Homo sapiens: one gene and its partners. The protein of the gene in region 4 purifies or fractionates together with the protein of the main gene of each other region. This does not show direct contact. Each region holds a gene or a part of one and is shown on either strand. Other genes may lie near its edges. The genes, in order: ZC3H18, DCAF1, PPP2R2D, ZFC3H1, PTCD3, GPN3 and TBCE.

Evidence for each region.
Region 1: the proteins of ZFC3H1 (region 4) and ZC3H18 purify together in Homo sapiens (affinity purification with mass spectrometry; 3 studies listed by BioGRID and IntAct, with this or other methods). This does not show direct contact.
Region 2: the proteins of ZFC3H1 (region 4) and DCAF1 purify together in Homo sapiens (affinity purification with mass spectrometry; 3 studies listed by BioGRID and IntAct, with this or other methods). This does not show direct contact.
Region 3: the proteins of ZFC3H1 (region 4) and PPP2R2D purify together in Homo sapiens (affinity purification with mass spectrometry; 2 studies listed by BioGRID and IntAct, with this or other methods). This does not show direct contact.
Region 5: the proteins of ZFC3H1 (region 4) and PTCD3 purify together in Homo sapiens (affinity purification with mass spectrometry; 2 studies listed by BioGRID and IntAct, with this or other methods). This does not show direct contact.
Region 6: the proteins of ZFC3H1 (region 4) and GPN3 purify together in Homo sapiens (affinity purification with mass spectrometry; 2 studies listed by BioGRID and IntAct, with this or other methods). This does not show direct contact.
Region 7: the proteins of ZFC3H1 (region 4) and TBCE purify together in Homo sapiens (affinity purification with mass spectrometry; 2 studies listed by BioGRID and IntAct, with this or other methods). This does not show direct contact.

The regions. Positions count from the first base shown.
Region 1 is NC_000016.10:88,622,403-88,625,902, reverse strand, and holds part of ZC3H18 (zinc finger CCCH domain-containing protein 18), read right to left. Parts: intron 2,685-3,500; coding exon 2,559-2,684; intron 1,946-2,558; coding exon 1,841-1,945; intron 1,302-1,840; coding exon 1,158-1,301; intron 702-1,157; coding exon 636-701; intron 1-635.
Region 2 is NC_000003.12:51,416,516-51,420,015, forward strand, and holds part of DCAF1 (DDB1- and CUL4-associated factor 1), read right to left. Parts: coding exon 3,219-3,500; intron 2,362-3,218; coding exon 2,163-2,361; intron 1,684-2,162; coding exon 1,601-1,683; intron 357-1,600; coding exon 272-356; intron 1-271. UniProt on the Homo sapiens protein: Acts both as a substrate recognition component of E3 ubiquitin-protein ligase complexes and as an atypical serine/threonine-protein kinase, playing key roles in various processes such as cell cycle, telomerase regulation and histone modification.
Region 3 is NC_000010.11:131,949,508-131,953,007, reverse strand, and holds part of PPP2R2D (serine/threonine-protein phosphatase 2A 55 kDa regulatory subunit B delta isoform), read right to left. Parts: exon of another isoform or gene 2,604-3,500; intron 1-2,603. UniProt on the Homo sapiens protein: Substrate-recognition subunit of protein phosphatase 2A (PP2A) that plays a key role in cell cycle by controlling mitosis entry and exit. Involved in chromosome clustering during late mitosis by mediating dephosphorylation of MKI67.
Region 4 is NC_000012.12:71,625,849-71,629,348, forward strand, and holds part of ZFC3H1 (zinc finger C3H1 domain-containing protein), read right to left. Parts: intron 3,190-3,500; coding exon 3,070-3,189; intron 2,087-3,069; coding exon 1,903-2,086; intron 599-1,902; coding exon 412-598; intron 1-411. UniProt on the Homo sapiens protein: Subunit of the trimeric poly(A) tail exosome targeting (PAXT) complex, a complex that directs a subset of long and polyadenylated poly(A) RNAs for exosomal degradation. The RNA exosome is fundamental for the degradation of RNA in eukaryotic nuclei.
Region 5 is NC_000002.12:86,126,735-86,130,234, reverse strand, and holds part of PTCD3 (small ribosomal subunit protein mS39 precursor), read right to left. Parts: intron 3,075-3,500; coding exon 2,930-3,074; intron 2,295-2,929; coding exon 2,244-2,294; intron 1-2,243. UniProt on the Homo sapiens protein: Mitochondrial RNA-binding protein that has a role in mitochondrial translation.
Region 6 is NC_000012.12:110,458,258-110,461,757, forward strand, and holds part of GPN3 (GPN-loop GTPase 3), read right to left. Parts: intron 1,606-3,500; coding exon 1,438-1,605; intron 1-1,437. UniProt on the Homo sapiens protein: Small GTPase required for proper localization of RNA polymerase II (RNAPII). May act at an RNAP assembly step prior to nuclear import.
Region 7 is NC_000001.11:235,429,927-235,433,426, forward strand, and holds part of TBCE (tubulin-specific chaperone E), read left to right. Parts: intron 1-778; coding exon 779-878; intron 879-3,019; coding exon of another isoform or gene 3,020-3,172; exon of another isoform or gene 3,173-3,306; intron 3,307-3,500. UniProt on the Homo sapiens protein: Tubulin-folding protein; involved in the second step of the tubulin folding pathway and in the regulation of tubulin heterodimer dissociation.

The DNA of each region.
Region 1 (3,500 bases), on a different chromosome or scaffold from region 4:
CCATTGCACTCCAGCCTGGGCAACAAGAATGAAACTGTCTCAAAAAAAAAAAAAAAAAAAAAAATCTTTTTCTGTGGAGATGGGGTCTATGTTGCTCAGGCTGGTCAAGTCCTGGGCTCAAGCAATCCTCCTGCCTTGGCCTCCCACGGTGCTGGGATCACAGGTGTGAGCCGCCGCACCTGGCCCACAAAGCTTTTCCATGTATTCTCTTCTCAGATGTTTTTATCGGCTTCCCCACCCCCTCAGGCCGGTTCCCTCGACAGGTGTGATAGGTCACGCAGGCCCAGCCTCTGCCCTGCTGGGCTGGAAGCTGCCGGCTCCTCCCCAGGTGCAGGTGCTCTCTCAGGGTGCTGGGCATCAAGTCAGCAGGGCAGAGGCACCTCCTCCTGACCTGAGTGCCCCCGAGTTTGTGAATCTTTTTTTGGTGGGGGGAGGGGGTCTTCCTATCACGAGTCCTGGCCCATTTTCTCCTGTGTCAAAGCTTCAACCGCAGCCTTCCACAGCCCCAGGGTGACTCAGATCCAGAAGGGCCCCAGCCCACCTGTGGGAGACAGCCCAACCCACACTGGCTGCTTCTGGGACTTCCTGGCCCCGACGGGGAGGGAGAAACAGAGGCACAGGGTGATGGGGATGACCTGGATCGGGAGCTGGAACCACTATAGCTGCTACCACTGCCACTGCCGCTGCCGCTTAGCGTCCGCCTGTAATACAAGCAACAGCGGGGCTCAGGGGGCGTGGCCTCCACAGCCCCTCGCGGCCTCCCCTCCCCACCAGCAGCCCTGTGAGGTGAGCCTCCAGACTGGCCTTGCTACCACCTTGGAACAGGGCCTGGGCCTGTCTTCCTTTAGGCTCAGTGTTTTGTCAAGATAAAAAGTACAGTCTCTCGGGGGCAGCACCTTCCAGTGCAGACGGGGCCATGGCGGGAAGGCCTGTGCTCCGTGCCACGCTGTCCCTTCCCCTTCACGCTCCAGAAACACAGGCTCAGGGAGGGGACAGGGCAGGTTCCCGGGTAAGGGCTCACTGGGTGCTGCTCGGCTAGGGGGCGCTTCCCACCACCTGGCTCTGGACCCTGGCACTCTGGATTTCCAGCAGTGCCAGCATCACAGTGGCACCAAGAACACGGAAAGCCTGAGGGCCCCGGACGCCGGAGTGCTCACCTCCTGGGGGGGGTCCTGGCTGGCCGCTCCTTCCTCCTGGCTTCCCGAGGGTCTCCTGGCTTGGTGGGCTCGGGGACAGGAGCAGTGGTTTTGGTGGCCTGTGGTGGGGCTGGAGGCGGGGCCGGCTTCTTCACTGACTTCTCTCTGTGAGACAGGGAGGCTCGAGCAGGGCAGGGCTGGTGGACGGGGCCCCGCTGGCCTACATCCCCTTTCAATGGACCCACAGCTCGGGGAACGACACTGCATGCCTGTGACGCTCGGTGAGCACGCTCGTGCCTGGACACGGCTCCCCACCCATCGGTGTCAGAGTGCTTGGGAACGGCTTCAAAGCCCCCAGCAGCCCTTCCAGGCTCCCCTCTAACAGGCAAGAGCTACAGGCACCGCCAGGCAGTGGGGAGAGCAGGCTAATAGGAAGACCCCTTAAGAACACCCGGCTGCTGCCGTGTCCCCAGGGCTGTGCTCTGTCCCCAGGGTTCCCGAGGGAGTGCTGCTGTGTAAGGGTGGCCCGTGAGAACAGGAGCTGTGCCCAGTGCCTCCCAGCCCAGTCACCCCCTGGGGCCAGCCCCCTGAGGCATCCTCACCTCTTTGGTCCCAAACACAAATGAGAGATAGAGACGGAGGGAGGAGGCTGCAGCCTGTGGAGGCCTGGCCGGCCAGGACTTGCCCACAGGCTGGGCACTCACCCTGCTTTCCCGGGCGGCGGGGCCGGCTCTCCCTTGGTTCTGATGGAAGGTCTATGTGGGGAAGGTGTTGGGGACGGGGACGGGGACGAAGAGAAGGACCGGGACCTAGGGGAGTGAACAAAGGTGTCGGAAGGGGCCTGGGGGTGTTTCTTCACCAGCCCAAGCCCACTGAGGACCCACCCAGACCCATGGAGAAGGCCACGAATTTCCATTTATGTGCCTCAGTTTTAACTTCAGTTCTGGACTGTTCTGTCATCTGCTAAAAACACAGGCCCAGAGTAGACCAGAGAGCGTGGAAGGTGTCAGCATCCACTGGCGGGTCCTCCGGGAGGCGAGTGTCACGTTCATGTGTGTGCAGGACAGGAGGAGACAGGCTCCTTGGCAGTGGGGCAGCAGCACAGCTCCCATAGAAACACCCACAGGACAGGGCTGGGTCTGGCCCCTTCCTCGGCCTGTCTGCGGAGGACTGGAGTGCCTCAACTCGAGGATCTCAGGCTGTGGCCCTCAGTGACAGCACGCATCTACACAAGGACGAGGGCCCGCAAGGCTGGTGTTTGGTGGGGGACACAGGACACGACCCCCTGGCCATCCTAGTTCAGCTGCCAGCAGGGACCTTCAATACCCCAAGGGGCTACTGGCGCCACAACTAAAGCCACATCCGCAGGTGCCCTTGCTCACTGCACCTGCTGAGGGCCCTTCATGGGCCCTGGGGACATACCTGGACCGGCTTCCTGAGAACGAGCTGTGTCTGGAAGAGCGGCTGGAGTAGGAGCTGTAGGATGAAGACCGGGATCGCGACCGGGAGGAGCCGGAGCCAGAGTAGGACGATGACCGCGAAGACGACCTGGGGCGGGCGGGACGGAGCGTGGCGAGAAGTGAGAAGGGCCCTCCCTGCCCCACACGCCCTGACGCACACATGCACAGCTACACACCCACAGACGCACAGCTACACACAAGCGCACAGCTGCGCACGCGCGCACAGCTGCAGACGCGCGCACAGACGCATACAGCCTCCCCCAGACACTCTTCAGTGCCATCCCTCCTTGGTGCAGAACGGCATTTAGAAATCAAGACCTGGGCGTGGGGTGTGCCTGCTGTTACCGGGTGGCGCTGCCTGAGTGGGCAGACCCAGCTCACGTGGGTCCGTGTGTGTGTCTATCTGTTCATCTGCATCCACTTTCAGTGAAGCCTGGCCTCCCACCCACACCTCCTGTTCCTGCCGAGCATGATGGGGTCTACCCCGGCCCCCTGCTTTCCATCATCCCTCACTCGGGAGCCGGGCTCCTGTGTGCTGAGACCAGGACCGTAGGTGGAGGGGCAACAGTTTCAGGTCCAGTCTGGAGGAACAGATGGACTCACTGGGCCCCAGGTCTGTGCGTCCTCCCGCATCCAGGTGCCCCTCCCTCCAGTGTGGCCTGTGACTCCCTGGGAGCAGTCAGGCTCAGTCGCCGGGGTCTGTGCCCCATTTGGGGTCACTGCGTCAGTCCTACTTGGCATTGATGCTCTTTGCTGAAGGTATAAACGCCGGGTTAGTCCCACTGACTGGTCTGCAGGTAACGACGCCACAGCAAACAGTGGGGCTGGGGTGTTCCCCACCTGACCCAGTGAGGTACATGGTGTCAGCTGACGGCTCCAAGGTGCTGACACCCCAGCCGTCCCA
Region 2 (3,500 bases), on a different chromosome or scaffold from region 4:
AGGCAGGGGTTTCATTTCTAATCTAAAACTTACTAAGAATTCAAAAATATCTGTGGTGCTAATGACATCTTTCTCAATGTCACATTTAGCCCTTATACATTTTTCCCATACAGCTCAGAACTATATTATCATACTTTTAGATTCTAACTAGAAGGAATATCACTGATTTCTAGTTGCCCAAAGGACTTAGGTCCTCACATTCTATCAAGAAGATTTCAGTATGAACAAATGGGTATGATCAGCTTGAAAACAGTGGTTCTTAAGTACTTACGTGGGCAATGTCTCCTTTTGTGCCGATGACCCGATCCTGGGAGTGCTTACTGAACTCAACATAGTGATCTTCTGTGAAGGAATGCCTATGGACAAACAACAGGAGCACTGAAGTGACAGATCTTCAGGACATATTCCTGCAACCAACTGAAACACAGGTGACCCCCAGCCTCTTGCACAATCACACTCACCTAAAGATCCTGGACTCCCAAAGAGGAAACAATCATACACTTAGATTACAAAGAAAATTCCTTCTATCACCTTAACCAAGCAGATACAAAATAATGAATGGGAATTCCTTAGAGAAATGACAAACAGGGCACATGTGCCTTTGAAACACGCAGCAAAGGGGCCAGGCATGGTAGCTCACTCCTACAATCCCAGCACTTTGAGAGGCTGAGGCAGGTGGATTGTCTAAGCTCAGGAGTTCGAGACCACCCTGGGCAACATGTCGAAACCCTATCTCTATCAAAAATGCAAAAAATTAGCCAGGCGTGGTGGCATATGCCTGTGGTCCCAGCTACTCAGCAGGCTGAGATGAGAGGATCACTTGAGCCTGGGAGGTGGAGGTTGCAGTAGGTCATGTTTGTGCCACCGCACTCCAACCTAAGTGACAGAATGAGACCCCGTCTAAAGAAGGAAAGAAAAGAAAAGGCCAGGTGCGGTGGCTCAGGCCTGTAATCCCAGCACTTTGGGAGGCCAAGGCCAGCGGATCACAAGGTCAGGAGATCAACACCATCCTGGCTAACACAGTGAAACGCTGTCTCTACTAAAAATATAAAATATTAGCCAGGTGTGGTGGCGGGCGCCTCTAGTCCCAGCTGCTCGGGAGGCTAAGGCAGGAGAACGGTGTGAACCCGGGAGGCGGAGCTTGCAGTAGGCTGAGATCGCGCCACTGCACTCCAGCCTGGGCGACAGAACGAGACTCTGTCTCACAAAAAATAAAAAAAAGAAAAAAAAAAGGAAAGGAAAGGAAAGGAGAGGAGAAGAGAGGAGAGAGAAAAGGAGGGGAGGTGAGGGGGGAGGGGAGGGGAGAGGAGAGGAGAGGAGACACAGCAAAGACTGCAATGTCCTATGTGAACATGGGAAAATACATAGATTCTGGGTCGGGGTCTGCTGCATAATGAGAATGTATATACCTCATAAAAGTATCTAGGAATTAAGAAAGATAAAGTCTTATTAAACATGAGTCTTAGATGAGGAAGAGAGAAGTTAACAATAACCGACAGCATCCTCTTTCCCCAAAAGGCTTCCAGTCTAAGAACCAAATGAAGGGGGGTATAAACTAGGTAAATAAAGCACAGACTAGGTTCCAAAAGCAGATACATACTTCATATCAAATACTGACTTCATTCCCCAAAGTGCAGACAAAGGCTGGCTCCAAGTAGCAGATGTCAGCAGCAAGGACCCATCCTAAAAGAAAAAGGCGCAAGGTGGGTAACCACGTATTTACATACATGCAGATGTCACTACCTGCCATTAGCATTTTTAAAGATTTGCATAAAAATGTTGTTGAATTAAAGAGACAATTTTATAATCCCCAGAAACCAAGAAATGGTCAGAAGCCACTAGGATTTGAATACATACACCTATAGTGTCCTATAAAATAACCAAACTTAAGAGAATATTAAATCCTACTGAACTAGCCACAAAAATAGAATAGATAAAAGGGAGGGGGGAAAATGAGAAGATGTCAAAGATGGTTCCTTTCTTCCTACTAACTTTGCCATATTCCTCAGTCTCCATCTGAAATATGAATTAACCTCAACTAGACTTTCCAGTTGAGGACTCATTTAAAAGAGAGAGCTCAATAAAGGGTAAGCCTCCTTTACTCTAGTTCACCAATTCATCTTGGAAGAATGACTGAGAGCATCCTAGGAAGGAACCCTTACCCTGGAAGGTTCAAGATGTGTGATGGCTGAGTTGTGACAGTTATAGCTGGCCTCCTCCTGTCCACTAAACACATTATAGAGCTTCAGCTGCCCTGTGCAGGTGCCAAGCATCAGGAACCGCTCCCGTGCTGAGAATGCACAGCAGGTGAAGCCACTCTCATCTTCATTGGCTTCCCGGAACACTGAAATAGGACGGAATCTAAGCAAAAAAAAGAGAGAATCACAGGCAAAGAATGTGCAGGGACTCAGAAAAAGCAAACTGCTAGGATAGAAGAAAAAGCACAGAACATTAATGTTTCAAATGGCTTCTTCCAAAATCACAGTGACCTTCAGTGCTTTTTATTTTAAATAAGAAAAAGATTTCCACTTACAAATTTAAATAACAAAAATTCCCATGTTTAGGCCAGACACAGTGGCTCATGCCTATAATCCTAGCACTTTGGGAGGCCGAAGGGGGGGTATCAATTGAGGTCAGGAATTCAAGACCAGCCTGGCCAACATGGTAAAACCCCATCTCTACTAAAAATGCAAAAATTAGCTAGATATGGTGGTGCCTGCCTGTAATCCCAGCTACTCAGGAGGCTGAGGCAGGAGAATCACTCGAACCTAGGAGGCAGAGGTTGCAGTGAGCCAAGATAGCACCACTGTACTCCAGCCTGGGCGATAGAGAGACTCCGTCTCCAAAAAAAAAAAAAATTCCCATGTTTAAAACCTGTGATCCCGTAACCTTTATGTAAGATTTGTCAAGAATCAGAACAGGAAGCAACTTGCACCAGCACAAGTTTGGGAGCCTCCTTATGGACAGTAGTAATGAGGGGGTGTGGGTTCTAGAAAACATACTAGTTGAGATGAGAACACAAACGATTATATCAATATACTGCCAACAATCACACAAGGAACCCATGGTTGACAAAAGGTGGTACAATTACATTGTTCAAGTATTACACAAAGTAACAATCAGTGGTATTTCAGGACAACTATGCTGATACTGCCCAGTTTGATTTAAATAAAAGAATCATTCCAATTCCCAGGGAGTAAGAAGGGGCCTCTTCTTACCTGCTAAAGATAAGGTGCCTATCAAAGCATCCGCCATCCACCCCTCCATACTTTGGAAATGATGCCCTGCGGTTTAGCCTTGACGTAAAGTTTATTGGCGCTTGCCGCCTCTGTTTTGGCTCAGGACATTGGTGAGGAGTAAAGAGGGAGAAAGGTGGGCAGGTGGCAACTGGATTCTTGCAGCGAGCATGTTGTTCTCTAAGATACTCTGTGATTATACTGTCCAGCGTAGGTGGGGAAGGAAGATGTCTGTCCAGCTGTTTTTTTATGGCTGGGCTTTGG
Region 3 (3,500 bases), on a different chromosome or scaffold from region 4:
CCCCCTGCACACCCGCAAGTCACTAAGACAGTGAACCCCCGCACACTCGCAAGTCACTGATAAGACAGGGACCCCCCCCGCAAGTCACTGCTAAGACAGTGAACCCCCCACACACACCCGCAAGTCACTGATAAGACAGGGACCCCCCCCGCAAGTCACTGCTAAGACAGTGAACCCCACACACACACCCGCAAGTCACTGCTAAGTGAACCCCCTGCACACCCGCAAGTCACTAAGACAGTGAACCCCCCGCACACCCGCAAGTCACTAAGACAGTGAACCCCGCACACCCGCAAGTCACTAAGACAGTGAACCCCCACACACCCGAAAGTCACTAAGTGAACCCCCCCGCACACCCGCAAGTCACTAAGACAGTGAACCCCCCGCACACCCGCAAGTCACTAAGACAGTGAACCCCCCGCACACCCGCAAGTCACTAGTGAACCCCCCGCACACCCGCAAGTCACTAAGACAGTGAACCACCCGCACACCCACAAGTCACTAAGACAGTGAACCCCCCCGCACACCAAGTCACTAAGACAGTGAACCCCCGCACACCCACAAGTCACTGCTAAGACAGTGAACCCCCGCACACCCGCAAGTCACTAAGACAGTGAACCCCCGCACACCCGCAAGTCACTAAGACAGTGAACCCCCCCCACACATGCAAATCACTAAGACAGTGAACCCCCCGCACACCCGCAAGTCACTAAGACAGTGAACCCCCGCACACCCGCAAGTCACTGCTAAGACAGGGACCCCCCAAGTCACTGCTAAGACAGTGAACCCCCCCGCACACCCGCAAGTCACTGCTAAGACAGTGAAACCCCCTGCACACCCGCAAGTCACTGCTAAGACAGTGAACCCCCCCGCACACCCGCAAGTCACTGCTAAGACAGCGAACCCCCCTGCACACCCGCAAGTCACTGTTAAGACAGGGACCCCCTGCAAGTCACTGGTAAGGTGGTGAACCCCCTGCACACCCGCAAGTCACTGCTAAGAGAGTGACCCCTCTGCACACCAGCAAGTCACTGCTAAGACAGGGACCCCCCTGCACTGTGTTGCCACTCTGGAAAGAAAGATGGTCTCCTATCCCATCCCCAGTTGGGGTCCTCACTTGCTAGAGTACATATGTGTCATCCCCACACACATTTATATTTTGTATACAGATTTTTTTTGTTTTTTTTTGAGACAGAGTCTCACTCTATCGCCCAGGCTGGAGTGCAGTGGCACAATCTCAGCTTACTGCAACCTCCACCTCCAAGGTTCAAGCGATTCTCCTGCCTCAGCCTCCTGAGTGGTGGGATTAAAGGCATGCACCACCATGTCCGGCTAATTTTTGTATTTCTAGTAGAGATGGGGTTTCACTATGTTGGTCAGGCTGCTCTCGAACTCCTGACCTCGTGATCCGCCCTCCTCAGCCTCCCAAAGTGCTGGGATTACAGGTGTGAGCCACTGCGCCTGGCCAATAGTTACAGATTCTTAAAACAAAACCGTCTTGTATGTCTTAAACATGTTGTATGTCATTGCACCGTACGCATTCCTCCTGAATTTTCTTTGTGGATTATCTTTGTGAGATCCACCTAGGTGATCCATGTAGTTCTAATAATTGATTCTCACTGCTTTTCAGTATATGTTATGATAGAGAACAACTTACCTGTCCATTCCTCTAATGATGCACCTGTGGGCTGTCTCCAGTTGTTTGCTATTTCAGGTATCTGAGCACGTTTTCTTGTCTGAACATGCAAGAAGCTCCCAACCCGACTGAATGTCACCAAGGAGGTCACAAGAAGGGTACTGGGTAAGACCACTGGTCTCCACCCTCTCCCCCAAACCATCATCATTCTGATGGGCATGAAAGGACGTCCCTCTGGCTTTACTTGCTGATCACTAAGAAGGATGAGCATTTCTATTTATTTTTCCATTTCTGCGAAACCCCATTCATGGTTTTTGCTCTTTTCTGAGTTGTTTGCCACCTTCTTGTTGACAACTAATTCTGCACCTATTCTGGATACTTAATCTCTGTTCGTTATCCTTTTGTGGATTTTGTTTTCACTTTTAATTTCAATATAAAGAAGTTTAAAATTTAATGTAGTTGAATTTCTTAATGTTTTCCTTGGGCTTTTGGGGCCTTCTTAAAGAAGCCCTTGTTTCCAGAGCTCACAAAGATGTCTTAGGCTTAGAAACACTCAGAGCTTATTTATTTATTGTGTGGGGCTGGTGAGGGCTCTAATTTTTCTCCCCCAAACACAGATAACTAAGGCCGTCCAGGTGGCAGAGCTTCAGAGTTTGCACTGCTCTTCCCTGCAGGCTGCGTTCCTCTGCCTATCTGTCTCAGCCCCTTTCTGCAGGGCCAGGCTCCCTTTACAGCTCGCTCTACTGAGTTTCCTGTTGTGATACATTGTTTCCCATTTGAAAATGCCTTTATCACAAGCAGATTCTTGAACGAGCATCTACTTCAAGGCTTGATTCTAAGCTGGCGGTGGAGAGTAAGGAGTCACACTTGCTGGATCTGTCACACGGCTTCTGGCTCCCACTGTGGCCGTGGCAAAGCCGAGTCTCAGTCTCGGTGTCCGCTCTCAGAGGTAATTTGCGTTTTTTCCTTGGGTGCATTTAAGATATTCTCTTTGCGTTTGGTGTCCTGCAATTTCATTATGAGATGGATGGATGCTGTGCTCCCGATCCTGTGTATTCAGGCTTTCATAATTTAGAGAAAATTGCTGGCCACTGTCACTTTAAGCCTCACACCCCCAAACTTTGTTTAAACGTGTGCTGTGCCTCACCCTGGCCTCCACGGTTCCTAGTGTCTCTTGTTTTCTGTTTGGCTCTTTAGCCCGCATTTCTTCTGGTTTTCCTTTCCATCCACTAATACAAGATCTGTTTAGCCAAAATGGACCTGCTGCTAAACCCACACAGTTTCATCTGTCATACTTGTCATTTCTAGATGTTCTCTGACTCCTTTCCAGTCTCCACGTCATGTTTGGCGGTCATGTATCATACTTGTCATTTCTAGATGTTCTCTGACTCCTTTCCAGTCTCCACGTCATGTTTGGCGGTCATGTATCATACTTGTCATTTCTAGATGTTCTCTGACTCCTTTCCAGTCTCCACGTCATGTTTGGCGGTCATGTATCATACTTGTCATTTCTAGATGTTCTCTGACTCCTTTCCAGTCTCCACGTCATGTTTGGCGGTCATGTATCATACTTGTCATTTCTAGATGTTCTCTGACTCCTTTCCAGTCTCCACGTCATGTTTGGCGGTCATGTATCATACTTGTCATTTCTAGATGTTCCCTCTGATTCCTTTCCAGTCTCCAGGTCACGTTTAGCGGTCATGTGGCTCCTGGTTCAGGCTGTTTCCTTCCTCTAGTCTGTGAATATCTCAAGCATTCTTAGTTTATCTTCTTTAACTTAGGATCTCAACAGCTGCCTTCTCGGAGGTTCAGTTCTGCTGTGGTTCTGCTGACTTGCTCACGGTGGCTTTTCCTGTATGTGCTT
Region 4 (3,500 bases):
AAAAATGTTTCCTGGCAGTCATTATAATTTTATAGAGGCAATTTAAGATAAATTTAAAAGAAACAATTTTTTCAGGTGTTTTGCAAAAGCTACACTTAACTTTGCCCAAACTAAAACTGTGTAAAAATAGGTAAGTGTGAAATTTTTAACAATTTTACATTTTTTCTTTACCAATAAAGTTAACAACAACAAAAAAATCACCTCTTCACTAAATATTTTCTTCTTGCTTAGTCTAAATTCTGATCCAGAAGTGGCTTTGTGGTTACTAGAAACTGAAAGTAAGGTTATTATGTCTATATTCAGATAAAGCATATGCTCTATTAAGCTACTTATCAATTTTTAAGATGATCCAAATAATTATACACACACACACACACACACACACACACGTACGTTATCTTTTCTACTCACAGTCCAAAAGCTTTGATAATCTGGAGCATATTCAACAGCTGTTTCACACATTTCCTGCACCTCGTCCTTGGTTCCTCTTTTTGAGAACAATCTGAGGTAATGGCACCAAATTTCTGGATTGTCTTTGTTATTTTCCAATGCTCGCGCCAGAACATTTAAAGCAGAATCCAAGGATTCTGAGCACTCCCTGTATATATAAAAGAAAAGGTGGAAGTGCTTTTTAGAACCTGCTTGAAAATTTAAATAGGGCTAATCCAATGAGTCAATTTTAAAATTCCATTTTCTACTAGAATTTACCAAGAAGTCAGGATCACTTATGAAAAGGGGTACTAGATTTCAGATTTTAAATCACATGCCTAAAAGTTTCTGATTTTCCACAGACCCAACAATTTTTTTAAGTGAATGTTCAGTAAGCATTTACCACAGATAAAAGTACAGTGTTATAAAACCACTAAGATTATCAACTTCAAATGTGCTTTATGTCCATATTCAGCAATACCTTTTATGATTTACACCATTTGGGAATGCGAAAAGTTAAACAACTCTCTCTCAAGGCCAGCTACTGCAAGTACAAAATATCAAAGCTTTCAGTATAATAGTTCTTTTCAACGGTCAAGGGCTTGCTATCTCTTGGAGAAGATAATTCTTTCTCATGATCCTATTCATAAAATAATGTATGGTTCTTTTGGCCTTCACTCAGTAAATGAGTCAGAAAAGAAAACACTGTAACTTATCCCATTAACATGGAAATGACACACAGGAAAGTTAAATAAGCAACACATCCAGGCATGTGTGGGTTTATTAGCACTCTGCAGCACTGCCTTATTTAAAAGCTTTAAGATAGTCAAATATTTCAAAGAAACGTGTAAAAAAAAAAAACCCTTGAATTATTGTAACTATAAAGTTATAATTATGAAAAGATTATTCTTGGCTTATTTCTACTACCAAGAAGTTAGAAGATGCCATTTGCAATACAAACTATTGGTTGTATAAGTTATTACCATTTACCTTATTTAAATACATATAATTTAATATGACAGAGACAGAAAGAAAATTCACCATAATTTGGAAGTTCTCAGATAAGCTTTAAATATCCATTACAAATTAACAAAATTTAACCTGTTCCACCATTATTTTATCATAATTTTATTAACAAACTATGACTACTATGATTTTTTTAAAAAACAATCAACCATTCCACTAGTCAGAATTTACTGTTTTAACTAATCCTACTTTGAAATAAGAGCCTACTGGAGTAAAAAACTTTAGTATAATTTATTACCCATACACTGAGCCATGCACACAAACTCAAGATCTAATCTTAAACTTGTCTAATAGCTTTTAAACAATAAAATGCTTTTGGCTTTGTCAAAAAACAAAGACTCCATTGATACTAGGAAAGAAACCTGACTGATTACCATAGGTAAAAAAACCTCAAACATAAAAATATAAATGTGCAACTGTTTACACAAAGATTTGAAGTTGACCTACCCCTCATTTTGATTCAAGTACTTGTACGCAAGCTTGAGCCAAAGTTGTACATGAGAAGGATTTTCAAGCACACTTGCTTCTAAATTAGCGATGTCATCAGTCTCATTTGTAAAGTATCTGACATCATCTGGAGTGACAACTGTATCCAGAGCTGGAACATTTATTTGGTTCTCTGGCTGGAAAGCTATTTAAAAAAAAAGTATTATTAGCTTCACATTTTCTTTAGTCCACAGATGCAAGAAAAAGAAAACAATTGGTCTCATCTTTAAAGTAACTTAAAAACCTAAAGATTCTAATGACATGTACTAGCTCACAGCTTTAAGGTAGAGCTATGACATAATTTATCACCCAAACCAGGACCCTTCTGAGTGGAAAGAGGTGCTACTAAAAATTACACCAGAACAAAAGGAGTAATTAGAACTCTGCTATTTTAAGGCTAAGTGACATTACCTTTTCAGTCCACTTAACAGTAACTATGATTCAACTGCTTTTTCATTATTATCAAATGAATTCACATTTGTTAAACTGCAAATTATAATTAAGAAATTAAAAGTCATAATTTATAAAGATTATTCTACTATATCTAAACTAGAAAAACAGTGTTACGTTAGTGTAAATAAGTACATAATAGCATACATCTCTTGGATACTTGCTAATTCACAAATAATGCAAACTTGAAATTAGAAAGTAAAATGTGCCTAACATACAGGCACTCATTCATACATTATTTTGTTCATTAGTTCATTCATCATTTGTTCATTCTCATCTTTTGAGCCTTCTGCATGTCAGAAAACATATTCAAAGATGAAGTAAAATAGAACACCTGCCCTTAAGGAGGACACAGGCTAGGCAGTGGTTCTCAAACGGGAGCTACCTTCCCCACCAACTAATGTATGTTTGGAAATATCTGAAGCAGTCATAATTATTAACTAAGCAGTGCTCCTTGCATTTACTGGAGAGGAGCCATGAACACAAATATCCCGCAATTTCAGAGGCAATCCTGCACAGTGAATTAACTGTATTGTCTAAAAACCCAATGGCATCGTTTTTAAAAAAAATTTTTTTTTAACCAGGCAGGCTGATACACCAAAGGATTAGCAAAGTGTTAAATAAAGATGGAACACCACAATTTAATAATTCTGGATCTTAAATTACATAACTTCTTACCATACTTAATTGGTCCTGTAGACTGTTCCTCATCACTACTGAAGCTATTATCTGAAATAGGTTTTCTCCAAAACTTTGGCTTCCACTTTCTTTTATCTTTGTAGGTTGTAAATGGAGGAGCTAAAGTAGATAGGAGAAGATTGTTAATTGATATAACTAGTTTTTTTTTTAACATTTTGAAGGATACTCAAATAATATTTGAGAAGAACTACATTCACTCCATCTTAGAAATGATACGTATTTTTTTTTTTTTTTTGAGATGGAAGTCTCACTCTGTCACCCAGGCTGGAGTGCAGTGAGTGCAGTGGCGCGATCTCAGCTCACTGCAACCTCCGCCTCTCGGGTTCAAGTGATTTTCCTGCCTCAGCCTCCCAAGTAGCTGAGGCTGCAGGCACACGCCACCACCACCCGGCTAATTTTTCTATTTTTAG
Region 5 (3,500 bases), on a different chromosome or scaffold from region 4:
TCCGCCTCCCGGGTTCAAGCGATTCTCCTGCCTCAGCCTTCCGAGCAGCTGGGACTAACGCCCTCGCCACCACGCCTGGCTAATTTTTTGTATTTTTAGTAGAGGAGGGGTTTCCCCATGTTGGTCAGGCTGGTCTTGAACTCCTGACCTCGTGATCTGCCCGCCTCGGCCTCCCAAAGTGCTGGGACTACAGGCATGAGCCACTGCACCCGGCTAAAAATGTTTTTTGCTAGTAATCATTTGTGTTCCCTTTAAATATAATCAGAATGAGGTCAAGAAAAAGTAAACTAGAATTAATGGACAGGGCAGTTCTTAAATATAACATGAACTGAGCACTAATAGGTCAGAAAATCATCTGCAATATTCCCAGTCAAATATTTCTCTACACTCCTTTCCCTACCTGTTTTGTATGTTTGTGGTAGTAAAGCTGTAATGACAGTACAGATAGAGTTTCACAATTTACTCAAGCATGCTTCCCTTTGCTAATATTCTTAATTTTATTAGTTACATAATATTCTCTTTTCAATGTATTGTTTCTAGGTTATTTTAGGCTCTCTCTTTTGGGTAAATTCCTAGAAATTATTATTACTATTGAGACAGGGTCTTGCTCTGTCACCTAGGCTGGAGTGCAGTGGGGCAAACGCAGCTTACTGCAGCTTCAACCTCCTGGCCACAAGCAATCCTCCTGCCTCACACTCCTGAGTAGCTGGGACTACAGGGGTGCGCCACCATGCCCAGCTACTTTTTTCATGTTTAGTAGACATGGAGGTCTCTCTATGTTGGTTTCAAACTCCTGGGCTCAAGCAATCCTCCTGCCTTGGCTTCCTAAATTGCTGGGATTACAGGCGTAAGCCAAAACTACTGCTGCAGACAGGCAAATTTATATACATAAGACAAACCAACACAGCTCCCCCAGAACCCCCATCCCCCAGTCCTGGCTGTTACTTAGGAAATGTAAGTACATCTGACTTTGATTAGCAATTGAACCAGTGATGAGAGTTACAGAGGAAAGGAATATACTTTGGAGTCAGAAATACTAGCTCCATCACAATCTCACCAAGGTTGAGTAAAATTTTAGGGGACACAATTATGGAAACTGTTTACCTGTTTCCAAGGTATAGTCAATTAACTGGTTCCTTTTCCTAAAGATAAAATTTGCCTATACAGGTGAGGATATGGATTTTACAAAATTAGTCCTCCAAACCAGAGAGAAACAACTTCCCTTCTGTAATTTTTATAGTCTATCCACAAGAAAGAATGACTAGAACTGTCAATTCTGAACTCAAGGGTTATTTCTCAGGCTGGGGATAATGGACAAGAACCAAAAGATTTTGAGTGCCTCATATGTGCCCTCCAAGCACAGTAGCAGACACAGTGTGGAACTCATTTAACTACCACACCCTGCTGCTATTCCTCAGGTAGGTATCTAGTCGCTTTGACATAGCTGGTAAATAAATGGTAGAGTGGACATCTCAGCTCAGGTGTGTCTCTCTTCAAAGTCCATCTACTACAGAGCAGAGCTCCCACTGGAACTGACCTAAAAGTGGACAACGCATGGAGCCTTGAGGTCCTCCCAAAACGCTTCACAATAAGTTTACCTTTCCTCTGGAGCAGAAACGTCCACAAACTTTTGGCAAAGATGGAAATGTTCTGAATCTGCATCACGACACATGGTAGCCACTAGACACATGGCTACTGAGCACCAATGTGACAAAATAATTTATTATTTTACTTAATTTTAATTAACTGGCCACATGTGGCTAGTGGCTATGGTGTTAAATAGCACAGCTCCAGAGAACAAAAGGAATTTCAACCAAAATATATTCTACCCAATTCCTGTTTGTACAACATCACTGCCAGTACAATCCATAACCCTCTCCCCTCCAGCTCAAGTTTTAGACCACAAACAAGATTGCTACCCTCAAGAATAATTTTAGGTAGTAAGACCCTGTCCAAAAAAAAAAAAAAAAAATCAGCTAGGCATGCTGGTGGGCATCTGTAATCCTAACTACTCAGGAGGCTGAGGAGGGAGGACTGTTTGAGCCCAGGAGTTCAAGGCTGCAATGGGCAAGATCCTGTATCTAAAAAAACCACAACTTTCTGCTCAGGCTGTACAGGTTAATTTACAAATTCTCTCTTCTTAATTCATATGCAGAGAAGATAACTACAACAATTAATCACATAAACTCAAGAAAGCTGGTCAATTTTCTATATAAATTAACACAATTTAAGGCCATACATACCAGGTTGATCAAACAGGCGAATAATATGGTGATATGTTGCAAGCGAGGGTTCTCAAATTACCAGGTAGACAGAAAAAATAAACAATGAGGTAAAAACACAGCAATCCAAAACATAGTTTACTGAGACACACTGAATTAAAAACATATTGTTAATATTTAAGCAAAATATGCATTTCTATTCCTTTGAACAAAGTTATTTTCCAACTCATTAATGTAAAGGTAAAAAACTATCACAAAGACTGTATCACTTTTTGAAAGTCCAAATACTTATTAGTCACATTCTTCACTGAGAACAGTAAAATATATTGAAGTGAATTGATTCCCAAAGCAACTTTCAATAAAGTAATTAATGAAAAATATACAATACACTAGCACACACTTAGGTTCAAATACCTAATTATGTTGGGAAAATGTCATGAATTTAAAACTAGCTAACTCAAAGCAATCACTTCTCCTCAGATTCAACAGATCCATAAACAAAGTACCTAAAATACTAATGAACACTAAGATGATAAAGGCACTCCCACTATAATAAGTACATGTAAGTAAATGTGCCAAACATGGAAAGAAAATTTCCAACATATTATGTAAGCACAAGAATAATTTAAAGCTCTTTGCTTATGTAGCCCTGAAACCTCTGGCTGGCACAGTCTCTGTCCTCAGAGAACTCAAGGGCGCATCCTCACCTATTCCAATGGCTTTCATTTCACGTAAAACCTGTAAGGCTGGCGATCTTGCAAACACATGAAATCTTCGGAGACATTTCAGAATGGTATTAAAAGTCTGAAGATTTGGTTTCACCTTCTGTGCAACCATGTGTCTTAGCAGCTCCTAGGTGAATAAAAAACAAGAAGTATCTTTCATGCCTGGGTAATCTGTCCAATAATCTATGTTTCATACAAAGTAAAGAATTTAGCTTTCTTGCTTATGTTTAAAGCAGGTTAGTAACTATATCCCTCTTTTAAGAACTGTTTATTAATTAGCAGGTTCCATGATTCTGCCTTTTAAAGAAGCCTGCTAATTCAAACACCCACCCCACTTGATAGAGGTGGTCAACTGTCTTCAGTCTTCTACCTAGGAGAGTTTTCCAAGAAAAGACGCAAAAATAATAGACTAGTATGATATAAAAAAGTGGTTGGTTTTTTTTTTTTTTTGAGACAAAGTTTCGCTCTTCTTGCCCAGGCTGGAGTGCAGTGGTGCGATCTTGGCTCACTGCAACCTCTGCCTCGTGGGCTGAGGTGATTCTCCTGCCTCAGC
Region 6 (3,500 bases), about 39 Mb from region 4:
ATAGCTTGAGCCCAGGACTTTGAGAGCAGCCTGAGCAATATAGTGAGATCCTATCTCTACAAAAATAAATAAATAAGTGCTACAAAGATATCTATAGTTTGGGAATATTCATCAAGCTGTATACTTATGACATATATACTTTTCTGTGGGTATATGTATGGTCAATTAAAAGCAAGGGGAAAAAAGTGAGGGCCATAAATGGTCAAAGCCAGGTTAGGCTCAAGTTGAAAATTCACAATTTGGGCTGGAGGTGGTGGCTCACACCAGTAATCCCAGCATTTGGGAGGCCGAGGCAGGTGAATCACCTAAGGTCCAGAGTTTGAGACCAGCCTGGCCAACACAGTGAAACCCTGTCTCTACTAAAAATACAAAAATAGCCGGGTGTGGTGGTGGGTGCCTGTAATCCCAGCTACTTGGGAGACTGAGACAGGAGAATCACTTGAACCCAGGAAGTGGAGACTGGAGTGAGCCGAGATGGCGCCATCATACTCCAGCCTGGGTGACAGGAATGAAACTCAGTCTCAAAAAAAAGAAAAAAAAAAAAGAAAATTCACGATTTGGCTTCAGAAGCCATGATGTGCTATTATCTGTCTCCTACCAGTCACACCTCATGACAATTGCCTCTTTGTTTATTATGCTCCAGCCACACTGGCCTTTTCAGTGCCTTAAAACAGCTTTGTTCCTTCCTCCTGGGAGGTGTTCAGCAGGCTGTGCCCTCTGCCTTCCTCACCCTCAGCCTCCAGCCCAGCTGAAAGGCCGCCTCAGATGCCTCTCTAACCGCCATTATCTGTGTGATGATCTGTGCTACTCCTGTGGAATACTCAATGACAACTGAATATTAAATAATCATTTGGATGCTTTTTGTTTGTACTGTCTCGAGTTCTGCCAAATGTGAGCTCCATGAGGCCAGAGACCATGGCCATCTGTGCTCTATGGTATTCCCAGTGTACAAAGCAAGCACTTAATAGATATACTTTTTTTTGTTTTTTTTTTTTGTTTTTGAGACAGAGTCTCATTCTGTTGCCCAGGCTGGAGTGTAGTGGTACAATCTTGGCTCACTGCAAGCTCCACCTCCCAGGTTCATGCCATTCTCTTGCCTCAGCCTCCCGAGCAGCTGGGACTACAGGCGCCCGCCACCATGCCTGGCTAATTTTTTGTATTTTTAGTAGAGACAGGGTTTCACCATGTTAGCCAGGATGGTCTCGATCTCCTGACCTCGTGATCCACCTGCCTCGGCCTCCCAAAGTGATGGGATTACAGGCGTGAGCCACTGCGCCCGGCCTCAACAGATATACTTAGTAAGTGACAGCCATTGAATAAGCTTGGTACTTTACTGCAGTATAGTTTAGAGCTACAAATACTCACTCTCCTTTCTCCTACTAAGGATGGAACTATCAAGACTTTAAGGAAGACAATGCATTCAAATTGTTGATTCACCTGGACAATCAAAAAGGATATAGTCGTCCTCTACATGGCCAAGACAGTTCTCCAGCCAGTCAAAATTATTGGCAAAGTACTCCATGCAAAATACCAATCCTCCGTTGGGACCGAATCGCAGAGAATCATCCTCCATTACATCATCCACCTCGATCAGTTCCCGGATGTCTGAAAAGGACAGATAGGGCCCAGAATATATGTGTCCCTTCAAAAATTGTTATCCTTACTAGAAATAGAACATAAAAGTTAATAATTACATAAAAAACCCATATGCAGGAAATTATTTATGTACATGGCTTTTCCCTGTAGCAGTGTCCATCAATAGAGAACTGAGCAAATAAATTATTGTACAGCCCGACAATGGAATACTACACAGCCATAAATGGGGAAAATCTCTTTAAGTATTAATAATAATACAATCTCCTAGGTATATTGTTCAGTGAAAAATGCAAGGTGCAGAACTGTGTAAGAATGCTATCATTGGTGTTAATAAAAGACAAAAATTCACTACATAGACATAATACATATACATCTTGAATTTTATGTGCACAGGCTATGAAAGAACACACCAGAAACTGGTAACACTGGCTGCTGCCAGGGAGGGGAGCTGATTGCTGGGATGCAGAGCTGAGAGGAAGATGTTTTCCTGTATACTTACTCTTTAGTACTTTTACATTATGAACCATGTGAATATGTATTACCTATTCCAAAAAAGTACAAAACCAAAAAAAGAAAACAGATTACCATTTCTTAACACAATGACACTAAGGAAACTATTTCACCTCCTTGAGCCTCACTTTCCTTATCCTGGGTTAGAAGGATGAGAACTATGAGATAATATATCAAAATCACCATCAGGGGCTGGGTGCGGTGACTCCTGCCTGTAATCCCAGCACTTTGGATGAGGCAGGCGGATCACTTGAGGTCAGGAGTTCAAGACTAGCCTGGCCAACATGCTGAAACCTGTCTCTACTAAAAATATAGAAATTAGGCTGGGCATGGTGGCTCATGCCTGTAATCCCAGCACTTTGGGAGGCCGAGGTGGGGGGATCATGAGATCAGGAGTTCGAGACCAGCCTGGCGAACATGGTGAAGCCCCATCTCTACTAAAAATACAAAAATTAGCAGGCATGGCGGCGCACGCCTGTAGTTCTAGCCACTCCGGAGGCTGAGGCAGGAGAATCACTTGAACCCAGCAGGCAGAGGTTGCAGTGAGCCAAGATCACGCCACTGCTCTCAAGCCCAGGCGACAGAGCAAGACTCCATCTCACTTTCCAACTTGGACCCAGCAGAATGGCTCCTGCAAAGAAGGGTGGCGAGAAGAAAAAGGGCCATTCTGCCATCAACGAAGTGGTAACCCGAGAATACACCATCAACATTCACAAGCACATCTATGGAGTGGGCTTCAAGAAGCGTGCCCCTCAGGCACTCAAAGAGATTCAGAAATTTGCCATGAAGGAGATGGGAACTCCAGATGTGCGCATTGATACCAGGCTCAACAAAGCTGTCTGGGCCAAAGGAATAAGGAATGTCCCATACTGAATCCGTGTGCAGCTGTCCAGAAAACGTAATGAGGATGAAGATTCACCAAATAAGCCATATACTTTGGTTACCTATGTACCTGTCACCACTTTCAAAAATCTACAGACAATGTCGATGAGAACTAATCACTGATCGTCAAATACATCAAATAAAGTTATAAAATTGAAAAAAAAAAAGACTCCATCTCAAACAAAAACAAACAAAAATAGAAAAATTAGTCAGGTGTGCTGGCATGTGCCTGTAATCCCAGCTGCTCGGGAGGCTGAGGCAGGAGAATCACTTGAACCCAGGAGGCAGAGGATGTAGTGAGATGACATGGTACCACTGCACTCCAGCCTGGGTGGCAGAGAGAGACTGTCTCAGGAAAAAAAAAATCACCAACAGGAGAGGCTTAAAAAATTCTGGTATGGTTATCTTACTAATTTTGGGGAATCAGTATATAGAATCTTCTACCTTAGGTTTTTACTTATTTTTGTGCTCAAACCTACATTCTCCATTCACAAAGGACTGAGCTTCATTCA
Region 7 (3,500 bases), on a different chromosome or scaffold from region 4:
AGGCTAGTCTTGAACTCCTGACCTCAGGTGATCCATCTGCCTTGGCCTCCCAAAGTGCTGGGATTACAGGCGTGAGCTACCGTGCCCAGCACAGGTTTCCCCTTTCATTCTTGAACCATTTTTGCATAGACATGTGAGTGTACAGTAAAGCCGGTAGACAGGCCTGAATGAGTTGTGCTCCCAAATAGAGCAAACGGGGGCAATTCAACCCATGGTGTCTCATCTTCTGGAAATACGGGCTTGTGTTTTTTAATAGTATCGTCTTTCAAAGTGACTGTCAGGATTGAATACTTTCTGAGATTAGGGTTTTGAGAAATAATTTAAGGGGCAATAATTTCATCCATCCTCATAGCCAAAGGGCAGACTCTATGTTTAGAGAAGCAAAATTCTAGCCCATGATTCAGTGTATCAGTAAGACTCTGGAGAACGGGACTTTGTTTTGCAGTATCCAGAGCCATATCTTGTGAAGCTGGAAGCTCACCTTGCAAATGCCTGAGTTTTGGGTTTAGGAAGCCTACAGCCGCATACAGGTGCCCTAATCCTGTGAAAGCATCTTTACACAGCTGATACCAAAAAGTTGTATGTTGTAAATGTTAAAAATTAGGTAGTCTTGATTCACTTGAATCATTAAAAAAGTGATTTTTAAAATATAATTCCATTTTAAGATTGAAACAAATCAAACCCCTTAGATTAAAACCCAGATTGTTGCTTTCAACAACTATTTCAGTTGGGTTTACTGTATAGAAATAAGTACATTGTATCTTTTTTTTCTACACAGTGAAAATAAACTAAAATTTCCCTCCGGTTCAGTATTAACTGGAACGCTTTCTGTACTGAAGGTTTTAGTCCTCAATCAAACAGGAATAACGTGGGCTGAGGTAATCATATTTCTTTGTTTTATTACACATTAATAAGCAATTAAAAATGTTTGGTTTAATAGAGAATTGTTAGTACAGTTTAATAGTACAACTGTGGCTTCATTTAAATCATCCCAGTATCTATTAATAGATAACAAGATTCATTAAAGTGCCTTATAAAAACGAGTTAAAAGAGCATCATAGTTGAGTTTTGCATCTGGAAATCCATGTCCTATCTCAGCTCATTTTGACTTGTTCTGGTGCCTTTATAAACAGTGGCGCTCCGTTATGGTATGAACCAGTATGTGCTGAGCTTCAAAAAGCCGTAGTGTTGGCTATTGACTAGCTTCCTGAGTTTTCCTGTTAGTTTTTTTTAGAACAGAAGCCAAGCAGCAGAAAGGTTCTCACATACTTTTCTTGTTAGAAGTTCGGCTCTTGGAATCCACTGTTCATTTTATACAGCCGGGCTCAAAAGTAGACTTGTGGGTCCTTGGCACAGCAGCATTTGGGACTTATATCTGGCAGTACTATTTCCTGTCTGAGGTGTACTGACTTCACACACCCAGAGCATTCCACTTTCTTTTTTTTTTTTTTTGAGACGGAGTTTTACTCTTGTTGCCCAGGCTAGAGTGCAATGGTGCAACCTTGGCTCACTGCAACCTTTGCCTCCCAGGTTCAAGCGATTCTCCCACCTCAGCCTCCCAAGTAGCTGGGATTACAGGCATGTGCCATCACACCCAGCTAATTTTGCATTTTTAGTAGAGACATGGTTTCTCCATGTTGGTCAGGCTGGTCTCGAACTCCTGACCTCAAGTGATTTGCCCGCCTCGGCCTCCCAAAGTGCTGGGATTAGAGGTGTAAGCCACCGTGCCCAGCCCACTTTCATTTTTATTTATTTATTTTTCTTGAGACAGAGTCTCACTCTGTTGCCCAAGGTGGAGTGCAGTGGCGCAATCTCGGCTCACTGCAACCTCCGCCTCCCAGGTTCAAGTGATTCTTCCGCGTCAGCCTCTCAGGTAGCTGGGATTACAGGCATGTACCACCATGCCCAGCTAATTTTGTATCTTTAGTAGAGACAGAGTTTCTCCATGTTGGTCAGGCTGGTCTCGAACTCCTGACTTCAGGTGATCCACCCACCTCGGCCTGCTAAAGTCCTGGGATTACAGGCGTGAGCCACCGTGCCCAGCCCACTTTCATTTTTATTTATTTATTTTTCTTGAGACAGAGTCTCGCTCTGTTGCCCAAGTTGGAGTGCAGTGGCATGATCTCGGCTCACTGCAACCTCCGTCTCCTGGGTTCAAGCAATTCTCCAGCCTCAGCCTCCAAAGTAGCTGGGATTACAGGCGCTTGCCACCATGCCCAGCTTATTTTTGTATTTTTAGTAGGGACAGGGTTTCACCATGTTGGCCAGGATGGTCTTGAACTCCTGACCTCAAATGATCTGCCTGTCTCAGCCTCCCAAAATGCTGGGATTACAGGCGTGAGCCACTGTGCCCAGCTTGGGCATTCCACTTTCAAACCAAGGGTGTAGAAATACATTCCCAGCCATGTTCACCCAGGAAGTGCCACAGAGGCCACTCAGTGAGAGACAGGTGGGCCCCTTGTGCCCTTAATATGCCCGTGGCCATGGAGCCTCTTTCCTAGGGCCCCTCCTCTGTGAGGCGCTTACTCCCTCTCAAGGTGTAGATGTAGCTGGAAGACAAGAAGGGGCCAGACACTGGCACTGGGGCTCACACCTGCAATCCCAGCGCTTTGGGAGGCTGAGGTGGGAGGATCACTTGAGCCCAGGAGTTTGAGGCTGCAGTGAGCTAGGATTGCACCTTTGCACTCCAGCCTGGGTGACAGAGCAAGACGCATCTCACCCTCCAAATAAACTAGGAAGGGCACACAGAAATTGAAGTGGTGGAGATGGCAGTAAAGTTCCAGTGAGAAAATTTAGAAATAGTTGGTGAGGCTGGTCATGGTGGCTCTCGCCTATAATTCCAGCCAGCACTTTGAGAGGCCCAGGCAGGAGAATCACTTGAGGCCAGGAGTTCAAGACCCACCTAGGCAACATAGAGAGATCCTGTAGATGCTATATATATATTATATATTATTATACATAATTATATAATATATAATAATTTTTTGTAATTTTTTTTTTTGTAAAAAAAAAAAATTAGGCTCATGCGCAGTGTGGTGGCAGCAGGCACGGTCTCGACATGCAGAAAGACGCCAGCAAGTTCGTGGATCTGTGCGTGCTGCAGAAATGCTCCACCAGCAACTGCATCATCAGTGCCAAGGACCACACATCCATGCGGATGAACGTGGCCAAGGCCAGTGAGGTCACGGGCAGGTTTAACAGCCAGTTTAAAACCTGTGCTATCTGCAGGACTGTTTGCAGGATGGGTGAGTCAGATGATTCCATTCTCTAATTGGCCATGGCCAAGGGCGTCATCTCAACTATTTGGTTTTTGAGATGGAGTCTTGCTCTGTTGCCTAGGCTGGAGTGCAGTGGTGTGATATTGGCTCACTGCAACCTCTGCCTCCTGGGCCAAAATGATTCTCCTGCGTCAGCCTCCCAAGTAGCTGGGATTACAGACGTGCACTACCACGCCTGGCTAATTTTTTGTATTTTTAGTAGAGATGGGTTTTCACCACGTT